Regions from separate parts of the Homo sapiens genome. Here region 2 is linked to region 1. A link means that fine-mapping ties the variant in region 1 to the expression of a gene that starts in the linked region. Tissue or cell type: tibial nerve. Region 1 holds a variant in brackets; the other region holds the start of a gene. All regions are shown on one strand. Distances are between the middles of the regions.

Evidence for each region. PIP is the estimated chance that this variant, and not a neighbour inherited with it, causes the effect.
Region 2: it holds the start of CELSR2, and the variant in region 1 is fine-mapped to the expression of CELSR2 in tibial nerve (GTEx, PIP 0.99).

Annotation. Positions count from the first base shown.
Region 1 is chr1:109,294,476-109,299,734 of GRCh38, forward strand. It overlaps MYBPHL (myosin binding protein H like), which reads right to left. Exons shown (of 9, transcript NM_001010985.3): 2 at 3,694-3,782; 3 at 2,947-3,142; 4 at 2,575-2,714; 5 at 2,308-2,467; 6 at 1,759-1,895; 7 at 636-822. Among named protein-coding and RNA genes, the nearest start is that of MYBPHL, 9.9 kb to the right of the region's middle. RefSeq lists an enhancer at 2,219-2,790. The variant C/A (reference allele first, on the strand shown) is at 2,641.
Region 2 is chr1:109,246,913-109,251,912 of GRCh38, forward strand. It overlaps CELSR2 (cadherin EGF LAG seven-pass G-type receptor 2), which reads left to right and starts at 2,627. Exons shown (of 34, transcript NM_001408.3): 1 at 2,627-5,000. The coding sequence starts at 3,168. RefSeq lists an enhancer at 1,944-2,664 and silencers at 2,666-2,725, 2,886-2,985, 4,084-4,274.

The DNA of each region.
Region 1 (5,259 bases):
ACTGGGGGGACAAAGGCAAATAAGACAATGTCCCTACCCTCAAAATGCTTATAATTTAATAGGGAAACATATCTATAAATAGATAATTATAAAACAGTATGTTAAACACAATGATAGAGATCTGAACAAGGTGACAGGTATAGATAAGTGATTAAATACTTTAAGGAAGTAGAGAGGATATGCAATATTACCTATAAATAAACCGGAGGGGAAGTGAAATAAAGCCTGACAAACAGTTGCAGCTTTCCTAGGCTGAGTCAGAAGATTGCACAGCATAAAGAAAAATGAGCTGAGCGAGGACCCGGAGACCTGGGCTATTTCCACCAGTGCCAGGTGATCAACTAACTGACACTGGGAATCTTGGGCAAACCAGTTCCCTCCCTGTACTTTCGTCTTCTCATTTGCAAAATGGAAATAAGAATTCTTCCTATATTATTGAATTGTGATGGAGAGAAATGAGATAGTAGATAATTAAAATGTCTCCTCCAATACATCCTGATGATGACAGTGATGAAAGAGTCCAGCGGAGGAACCCCTTCTCCCCCTAGGCTTGCGTCTCTGTTCCCTGACTCTTCCACCGGTGGAGAGAGGAGGTGACTGGCACCCTAAGGCACTAGTTCTCCTCTTGCCCTTACCTTTCACATCCACCCGACAGTCCACAGATGCCTCCCCTAGGGGGTTCACCGCCTTGCAGGTATAGATGCCTCCATCAAAGGGACCCGGCTTGCGGATCTCTAGGGAGCAGATTCCCAGGTGAGTCAGGGCTCTGTACTTAGGGTTGCCTTGGATATCCATCTTGTTCTTCAGCCAGATGATCTTGGGCTGGAAGACAAAGATGAGGGAGGCAGCAAGGAGGGGCGAGGGTAAGAACCAATAGTCTTTCTGTGCTCAGTTTCTGGGACTCTGTCTATATAGAGATAATGGCTTTCTGGAAGGCTCCCTGTTCCTTATGTTGTGGGAAGGGTTTCCCCTTCCAGTGCCACCAGCAGTCCCCCAAGCTCCTTCTCTTGTTTGAAAACAGCACCTGAAACTTCATTTTCTTTACCAATATTTCTGACTGGAAGAAAACTGCTAACTTCCGTTCCGGGCTCTCAGGCAGCCCCTTTATGGATCAGAAGCACTGAGCATCAGGCTCACCTCTTGTGAACCATCCATATTCTGTTCCCACTGCTGACTTGTGAGTTGCCTCTGTCCCCTCTGGTTAGAGAGTAGCTTCTAGAGTGGGCTCTTGATATGCCCCTTCTGAGATGTTATCTCCATGTAGTCTTGCCCAGACTCAAAACCCAAAAGATTCTTGGTACAGGTTGTTAATGGTGTTTTCTGCTGTGTGTGGAGCATGATGACTAGATTGTAAATAGACAGAGAGCCTTGCTCAGGGTTGTGGCAAAAGGCTGAACTCTAGGCAGGTTGCATGTGCACGGCCCTGATGGGATGAGGTATGCATGGGAAGGAGAAACCACAGGGACTCTGTCACTCCTACCACAGAAACAACTTGAGGCGCATGCCTAATTGCCAGCAGGTCAGTAAGCAACACCTCCATATATGAGAAACAAACATTCAAAAGGAAATGTCATTCTCATCAGTCCGTCTTGGACTCCAAGCACCCCCCCGACTGTTCCTAAATACCGTGCTGTAGAAGAGGCAGATGGCGGTGATGGTAACAGATGTTATGTTACAGTGCTCTGCAACTCAGCTTAGGTTAGGACAGGCAGGAACAAGAAGCAGCTCAGCACAGTGCCCCCCAGAGCCCCCACTCACCCGGGGAGAGGCGCGGACACAGCAGAAGAGCTGGGTATTATAGCCGGTGACTGTAGTGCAGTCGGCCAGAGGCTGGGTAAACTTTGGGGCTTCAGAGAAGTCTCGTTGGGCAAACCCCTTGGTCTTGTAAACAGTAGCTGAGGGCACCAAGAGGGGCTGGCATGTAGCTTCTGAGATCCCAGCCCTCGTCGACTCTTTATCCTTAGTATTTTTTTTTTTTTTTGAGGTGGAGTCTCACTCTATTGCCCAGGCTGGAGTGCAGTGGCACGATCTCAGCTCACTGCAACCTCCAACTCCCAAGTTCAAGCAATTCTCCTGCCTTAGCCTCCTGAGTAGCTGGGAGTACAGGCGTGCACCACCATGCCTGGCTAATTTTTGTATTTTTAGTAGAGATGAGGTTTCACCATGTTGTCCAGGCTGGTCTTGAACTCCTGACCTCAGGTGATCCGCCTGCCTTGGCCTCCCAAAGTGCTGGAATTAGAGGCGTGAGCCACTGTGCCCGGCCTATCCTTAAGTCTTCCCAGCTCATGATCCCCATGCCTCCCTTACCTGCTTTCTGGATGTGGGCGAGGTCCGTAGTGATGGGGGCTGTTTCACTGAGTCCGCACTGGTTTTCAGCAAAGACACGGAAGGCATAGGAGTTGCCGATGATGAGGTCAGAGACGATGCAGCTGGTGCGGTGATAGTGCTCCAGCACCGTGAACCACAGCTGCGGGGCCGAACATGATGCCAGAAATCAGCCACCCCATGTGGAGCTACCAGAGGCCTGTCCCAACATGCCCTCTTCCACCCTCCTTCCTTCCCAGCTGGCCTCACCCCGGATTTTGTGTCAGCCTTCTGCACCGTGTATCCCAGAAGTGCTGTATTCCCCGTATCTTGGGG[C/A]GGTGTCCATTCCAGTGTAGCGCTGAAGCCCCAAACGTCCACCAGCTTAATACTCTGAGGAGGGCCTGGCCTCTCTGAAAGGGCAAAGCCATGGCAGTGGGCGTGGAACATCCCACATGCATTGAAGTCACTTCAGGAGTGCCCTAGCCCCTTTTTCTCCTCAGTTACCCCTCCTGCGCCCACCCTGTGTCCCAGACATGACGTGGGAGCCTTGCCGCAGCTTCCCCAGCTCTCTGAGCTGGCTCCTCTTCAGCCTGGAGAGGGAGTTCCTGAGGACCCCCCCATCTCCCACTTCCCCCACCGTACCAATCACCAGGATGTCAATGGTGGCGGTGGCCTCCAGCCCACCCAGCTGCACGCGGAGTTGGTAGCGACCTGAGTCAGCACGTTGGGCTTCTCGGATGAAGAGGATGGAGTCTTGCTCCCCATTCCGCACACTCACACGCCTGGTGTCCAAGGCACAGCCATCATGTGTCCAGATGGCTTGAGGTTTGGGCTTGCCCTGAGGAATGAGGGTAATGCTTTGAGCAGCCCCGAGAGGCTTCCTGACTCTCCCTGCTGCTGTAGGGGTCCTGTCCACCCCAGGTCCACAGGGAGGCTTGACTTGGAGCTGCACATTCCTTGAGTTAGAAGTTGGTGGACCCTCCCGGGGGCCTCCTCCTTTCAGCAACAGCCTAAGGATCTTGGGAAAGAGGGATGGCTTTGAGTCTCCCAATCTCTGAGAGCTTAGGTCATGAACACCCGGGGCAGCTGGGACCAATTGAATAGCCACTCAAACTCCCAAGAACCCTTCTAACTGCAAGCTCTGAGGCTTCTGTAGACTGAAGGGCATGGATTAGCCTCACACCATCTCATGGGTGCACACCCAGTCCTATCCAAACCCACCTTCAGGAGTGCAGAGGTCATTTGGCCTCAGACTTCTGGTGGTGTGACCCCTTCTATCCAAGGCTGGGAAGATTGCCCCTCTGCTAGCAGGACTCTTGGTATCTGTTTCCAAATCCAAAACCTGCACTGGCCCCAGACATGGACCCAGTATGGGGCTGGCATGATCACCTGGAATGGGATTAGTAGGTTCACTGTGTCCCCAACCTTCCGGATGTAGGTCTGCCTCAGGGCCCGAGGTAGCCAGATCTTGGGGTGCTCTGAGTGATGGAAAGAGAGAGAATAGGAGATGGATACTCAGAGAAAGTAAATCCTGCATCCAGCTGCCTGCTGTGGGTGAGTGGCCCAGGAATCGGTCACCAAATTAAGCCCTTCTTAGAGGGGAGGGGAAGAGTGCTCCCATCATCCTGCTGGGATTTGGGGATGAGGGGTTGGCTTAAGGAACACCCCGGGAAACATTAAAGTCTCAGCAGAAGGAACACTGGAGTGCGAGTCTGACAGTTCTCTTAATTTGTAACTCTCAAGTACTGACTTTCCATCATCTGGAGGCATTCCATCCTGATGGAGGCATTTTTATTTTTCTGTTTGTGTACAGACCAGCCTGGTCTGTGTGGTTTGTCTTTCCACCCTTTTCTACATTTGTCCTTAATACCATTCCTTTTATCAAGGCCACTTTCCATGTCAATCCTGACCTCCCAGTTAGGTGTGGGTCTCAGGAGAATGCTCTCCATTCTGCAGGCAGAGTCAACACCCTGACCTCCCAGCCGCCCACGGAGACAACACTGATGTCACTGCAGACAGAGCACGTGTCTGGGTCCCTTCCTCTGCATGGCCACTCTGCTCCCGGGCGCCTGCACAGTCTTCTTCCAGTTTGCAGAGGATCATTTTGTACAGATTCTGGGACAGATTAGGTCCACCACTCATTTCCCTTTGATCTCACAGGTCTGTCCCAGTGAGAAGTAGAGATTAGATGATGTGTATGGGCTTCCAGGATGAAGACAGGAAATGCTTGGAAAAGTGCTGAGTGTAGGTTTGGAGATTGACCAGGTATCATTTCTCTCCTCTTGGGATGCCTCACACTGTCTCAGCTGCCGAAGCACAAACATTCCACCTGCGTTCCCTCGGGGGCCTGGCTGAGACAGACACCATTTTCTGGCCTTTTCCTGGCTGCTGTCTCCTCCTTTCTCAGGCACAGGCAGTCGCCTGGCTGATATTATCTTCAGTAGAATGTGATAGTGCTTCAGTTCCCAACAACCCAGGATTCTTGCCACAGTTCATTCTTGGCAGTTGGAAGAACTTCACCCCTGGTACATTCCTGTGGCAAACAGCATGACTGCTCGATAGTGGATTCCAGACTCTTTGATAGCACACACTTCTGTGAAAATACTTCCCTGAGCATTCACTATGACATATGTATGTTTACTTATAGATGAACTGTTTAAATACATACATTACATAACACAAACATGTAAGTGACGCAACTGAAACAGAGCTTCTTCTGTGTCCTTCCTCCAGCTCAATCAGCAAGCATTGTCCAGAGAACTTCACTCTGAGTCTCCCCATGATAATCTCAAGGTCGCGAGACCTTTGCAAATGAAGATCAATGGCAATGTACAGTGCACACGGTCCGTTTGGTTTCTGCAGTTTCCTTCTGTGCTGTGTGGCTTATGTTTTCACCTGGGCTGTGCCTGTCTTAGACTGCACCTCAGGAATATGTGACGAGGGGACTTGATGGGC
Region 2 (5,000 bases), 48 kb before region 1:
CCTGTTGTGTTGAAAGCCAGGGCCATGCCTTATCCAGGGGGTCCTCAGGAAGCAACCTGAGTAAGGAAATCCCACCAGAGCTAAAGGACAGCCGCAAGGCTAGCCAAGCAGGTTTCCTTCCTTCCCAGAGCCTCCACTGTGAAGTGGGAGGTTTGGACTAGAAGAACAATAAATTCTCTTTTAACAGACCCCAAGCCCTTGCTGCCCCTTGATAGCACCTAAAAGCTATGCAGAAGGGAGGCCTAAATGTCCCTTACACACAGGAGGGAGGTCCATAGGTTCCTTACAACTGGAAAGCTCCATGAAGCAGGCAGCCCTTCCCTGGGGATCAGGGAGGCCTCCACCAGGGCAACCCCTCCCTCATTTGAGACTCTCAGTGATGCATATGAAACTTGGAAATTTCCCTCCTGCTTTTGGGAGTTGGAAGTATCTGAGGAAGTGATGGGGAGAGAGCTCTGTCCTGTGCCCCCGGAGGGAGGACTGGGGAGGATTAAGGACTATTTGCCAAATGTGCTTGGGGATGAAGGAAAGGGTTCCTTGGATCCCCCAACCTATCTGCCTTTGGGTGGAAAGGCCACCCACCTGGAAGGGGCTTCTGAGCTCATGCCTTCCCTGGCAACCCCTGCCTCAAGGTGCAAGGCCCCAGAACCACCTTCCGTGATCCAGAGCCAGGGCTACTCTTTCCTCCCACCCAGAAAGCTTATTTTAGCAACAAAGGGAGCGAGATGAATGGAGAGTTGCAGCTTCTCCACGGGTTGGCTTGGGCCTTCACCAGAAATGAGAGTCTCATTACCCAACCCCAATTCAAAGGATAATTAACAGATGGTATAATTTCCAAGCATTCTCTGCACCACATGGCTATTAGGTGAAGAACAAAATGCCCACGCAGCCCCTAGATCCTTCCAAACTCCAGAGTCTGAGGAAGTCTAGAGAGGCAGAGCCCTGCGGAGGCGTGTAACCCACGCCTCCATCTCCAGAGCTGCCCTTGGCCTTGCTCAGAGGAAGAAAGCTCCTGTTTGGTCAAAGGGGAGGGCATTTCCTTGAGCCATGGGTCCTCCTCCTACTTCTATCCATCCTGCCAGGAGCACAGTCTAACCCTAATCTTTCTTGCTGTACCCAAGGCCCATCTCCTTTCCTGTTTCCCCAGGGGAAAAGAGAAAAGCTGATTTCTCATCCTTGGCCTCACTGTGTGGTCACACAGACACTCCTTGGGCCTGGGGCTGGGGGATCCTCTGCTGTGACCCAGTGAGAGTGGCACCACTGTGACCGGGGGCAGTGGTAGAAGGGAGCACCTGATCCAGTGCTTTTCAGATGGGTTCCTCCAGACCCTCAAGTTGCACAGAGCAGCCCAGGGATTTCTTGGTTGGGGGAGTGGTGGAGAGGGGCAAGGCCCTGACCCCCTCACTTCAACCCAGCAGCACTACTCATCTGTTCTATATTCTGGCCTTCCACTTCAGATTTCTTTTGAAGAAAAGAATTCTACTGCTAAATAAACATTTGAGAACCATTCACCTTATTCAATCCCCTCATTTTACAAAAAGGGACATTGAGGCACAGAATTTGAGCAAGGTCACATAGCTGTGGTGTTGGAGGCTGGGACCCAGGCCCAGGCATCCCCCCAGGCCAGGGCATCCCCCCAGGGACTACCTGACTGGGCCCCTGGCTGCTCCAGGATGTAGGGAAGCCTTTTCTGGGTCGCCTGCACGGCTCCTGCCTGGCTCTCCGTGTGGTCCAGCTTCATGTCTGGTCCTCTTGGAGAACCCCTGGAATCCTGCACACCCTCTCAAATGAAGCTGCCTTGGAGAGGGTCAGGAGCCCGGGTACCAGGTAGGCCTCCTCGCTGGTCACAAAACTGTGGCGGAAGGAGGGGGTAGCCGCAGGACATGGACAGGGAGGCAGGAGGGGATGAGAGGCCGCCTCTCTAGACAGGACCTCAGGGGGCAGTGTAAGCCCCTTGTCTAGAATCCAGGAAGCCTGTGTTAAAGCTAGGCTCCACCGCAGCCGGCCTCCGAATCTGGTGACAGTGTGTTTGCACCACCTGGCTTCCACCCACTCTGACCCTTCTAATTTACTTCCCTGGAAAAGCCCAAGTGGTGTCCAACATGAGGCTGGGGTCATTCTTCCAACAGCCCGACCCCAAGGGGCATGCTGGTCAGACAACAGCCTCGCTGGTGGGGTGGAGGGGACGGTAGGGAGCGAGTGGGCCCGGTGACTCATTGTGGGTGCTTCTCTGGGATTTTGGAGGCTTTGTTGTGTTGCTCAGGGCCCTTTTAACTCTGTCTGACCTATGGGAGGGGACAGCAACGAGGGCTTTTATGACTGGAATGAACTGGAAACTTGGCCTCTGAGAGCCCTTAAAATGTTTTGGAAACCTCTAGGCATACTTAGGGTACTTCCACCATGATTATCATCGGCTGTGTGGCTTCCGATCGCTAATTCGCACCGGGCATCTGGCGAGGCCGGCCTGGGGAAATTGGGATGGAGGGTCCTGCTGGAGGGAATCCTGGCGCTTTGGGCGGAGGAGTGCTCTGGGTGGGGCCCACCTCCTCCAGCGCGGCCGGCGTTGCCGCTTTAAGGCGGCCGCGGCGCGAGCAGGTCTATGGTAATGAGCCGCCGCCGCGACTCTGCAGAGCTCGCCCGCCCGCCGGGGAGGCGAGGGAGCGCGGGGCTGGGCCCGGGGCCGCGGCGACAGGCAGCAGCCGCGGCGGGGACGCGGGGCGCGAGCGGGCGGCGCGGGACCGTCGGGGGCCGCCGGGGCCGGGCCGGGGTCGGGGCGCACGGCTACGCGGGCGCAGGTGGGCGATCCCATAGGGGCGGAGGGGGCACCCCGGCTCCGGAACCCGGGGCCCGGCAAGGCCAGGGGCGCCGCGGGGCCCCCGGGCGCAGGTGGTGAGTGCCCGGAGCGCAGGTGGAGGCGCGGCGGCAGCCCGCGGTGCTCAGGGTGACCCGGGAGCGGGTCTGGCTCAGGGGGCAGTGGGAGCCCGGGCTCGTCGGAGGGTGCAGCGCGGGGTCCCGCCGAGCCATCCAGACGCAGGCCCCGCGGGGCGCACGGGAGGCCCCCGGGGACTGGCGCCCTGGCCCGGGCATGAGGCGCGGCGGGGCCGGCAGGAGCCGGAGGAGGAGCCGCCGCCGCCGTTGACCCGGCCGCCGGCCGGGAGCTGGGAGAGATGCGGAGCCCGGCCACCGGCGTCCCCCTCCCAACGCCGCCGCCGCCGCTGCTGCTGCTGTTGCTGCTGCTGCTGCCGCCGCCACTATTGGGAGACCAAGTGGGGCCCTGTCGTTCCTTGGGGTCCAGGGGACGAGGCTCTTCGGGGGCCTGCGCCCCCATGGGCTGGCTCTGTCCATCCTCAGCGTCGAACCTCTGGCTCTACACCAGCCGCTGCAGGGATGCGGGCACTGAGCTGACTGGCCACCTGGTACCCCACCACGATGGCCTGAGGGTTTGGTGTCCAGAATCCGAGGCCCATATTCCCCTACCACCAGCTCCTGAAGGCTGCCCCTGGAGCTGTCGCCTCCTGGGCATTGGAGGCCACCTTTCCCCACAGGGCAAGCTCACACTGCCCGAGGAGCACCCGTGCTTAAAGGCTCCACGGCTCAGATGCCAGTCCTGCAAGCTGGCACAGGCCCCCGGGCTCAGGGCAGGGGAAAGGTCACCAGAAGAGTCCCTGGGTGGGCGTCGGAAAAGGAATGTAAATACAGCCCCCCAGTTCCAGCCCCCCAGCTACCAGGCCACAGTGCCGGAGAACCAGCCAGCAGGCACCCCTGTTGCATCCCTGAGGGCCATCGACCCGGACGAGGGTGAGGCAGGTCGACTGGAGTACACCATGGATGCCCTCTTTGATAGCCGCTCCAACCAGTTCTTCTCCCTGGACCCAGTCACTGGTGCAGTAACCACAGCCGAGGAGCTGGATCGTGAGACCAAGAGCACCCACGTCTTCAGGGTCACGGCGCAGGACCACGGCATGCCCCGACGAAGTGCCCTGGCTACACTCACCATCTTGGTTACTGACACCAATGACCATGACCCTGTGTTCGAGCAGCAGGAGTACAAGGAGAGCCTCAGGGAGAACCTGGAGGTTGGCTATGAGGTGCTCACTGTCAGGGCCACGGATGGTGATGCCCCTCCCAATGCCAATATTCTGTACCGCCTGCTGGAGGGGTCTGGGGGCAGCCCCTCTGAAGTCTTTGAGATCGACCCTCGCTCTGGGGTGATCCGAACCCGTGGCCCTGTGGATCGGGAAGAGGTGGAATCCTACCAGCTGACGGTAGAGGCAAGTGACCAGGGTCGGGACCCGGGTCCTCGGAGTACCACAGCCGCTGTTTTCCTTTCTGTGGAGGATGACAATGATAATGCCCCCCAGTTTAGTGAGAAGCGCTATGTGGTCCAGGTGAGGGAGGATGTGACTCCAGGGGCCCCAGTACTCCGAGTCACAGCCTCGGATCGAGACAAGGGGAGCAATGCCGTGGTGCACTATAGCATCATGAGTGGCAATGCTCGGGGACAGTTTTATCTGGATGCCCAGACTGGAGCTCTGGATGTGGTGAGCCCTCTTGACTATGAGACGACCAAGGAGTACACCCTACGGGTGCGAGCACAGGATGGTGGCCGTCCCCCACTCTCTAATGTCTCTGGCTTGGTGACAGTACAGGTCCTGGATATCAACGACAATGCCCCCATCTTCGTCAGCACCCCTTTCCAGGCTACTGTCCTGGAGAGTGTCCCCTTAGGCTACCTGGTTCTCCATGTCCAGGCTATCGACGCTGATGCTGGTGACAATGCCCGCCTGGAATACCGCCTTGCTGGGGTGGGACATGACTTCCCCTTCACCATCAACAATGGCACAGGCTGGATCTCTGTGGCTGCTGAACTGGACCGGGAGGAAGTTGATTTCTACAGCTTTGGGGTAGAAGCTCGAGACCATGGCACTCCAGCACTCACTGCCTCGGCCAGTGTCAGCGTGACTGTCCTGGATGTCAACGACAACAATCCAACCTTTACC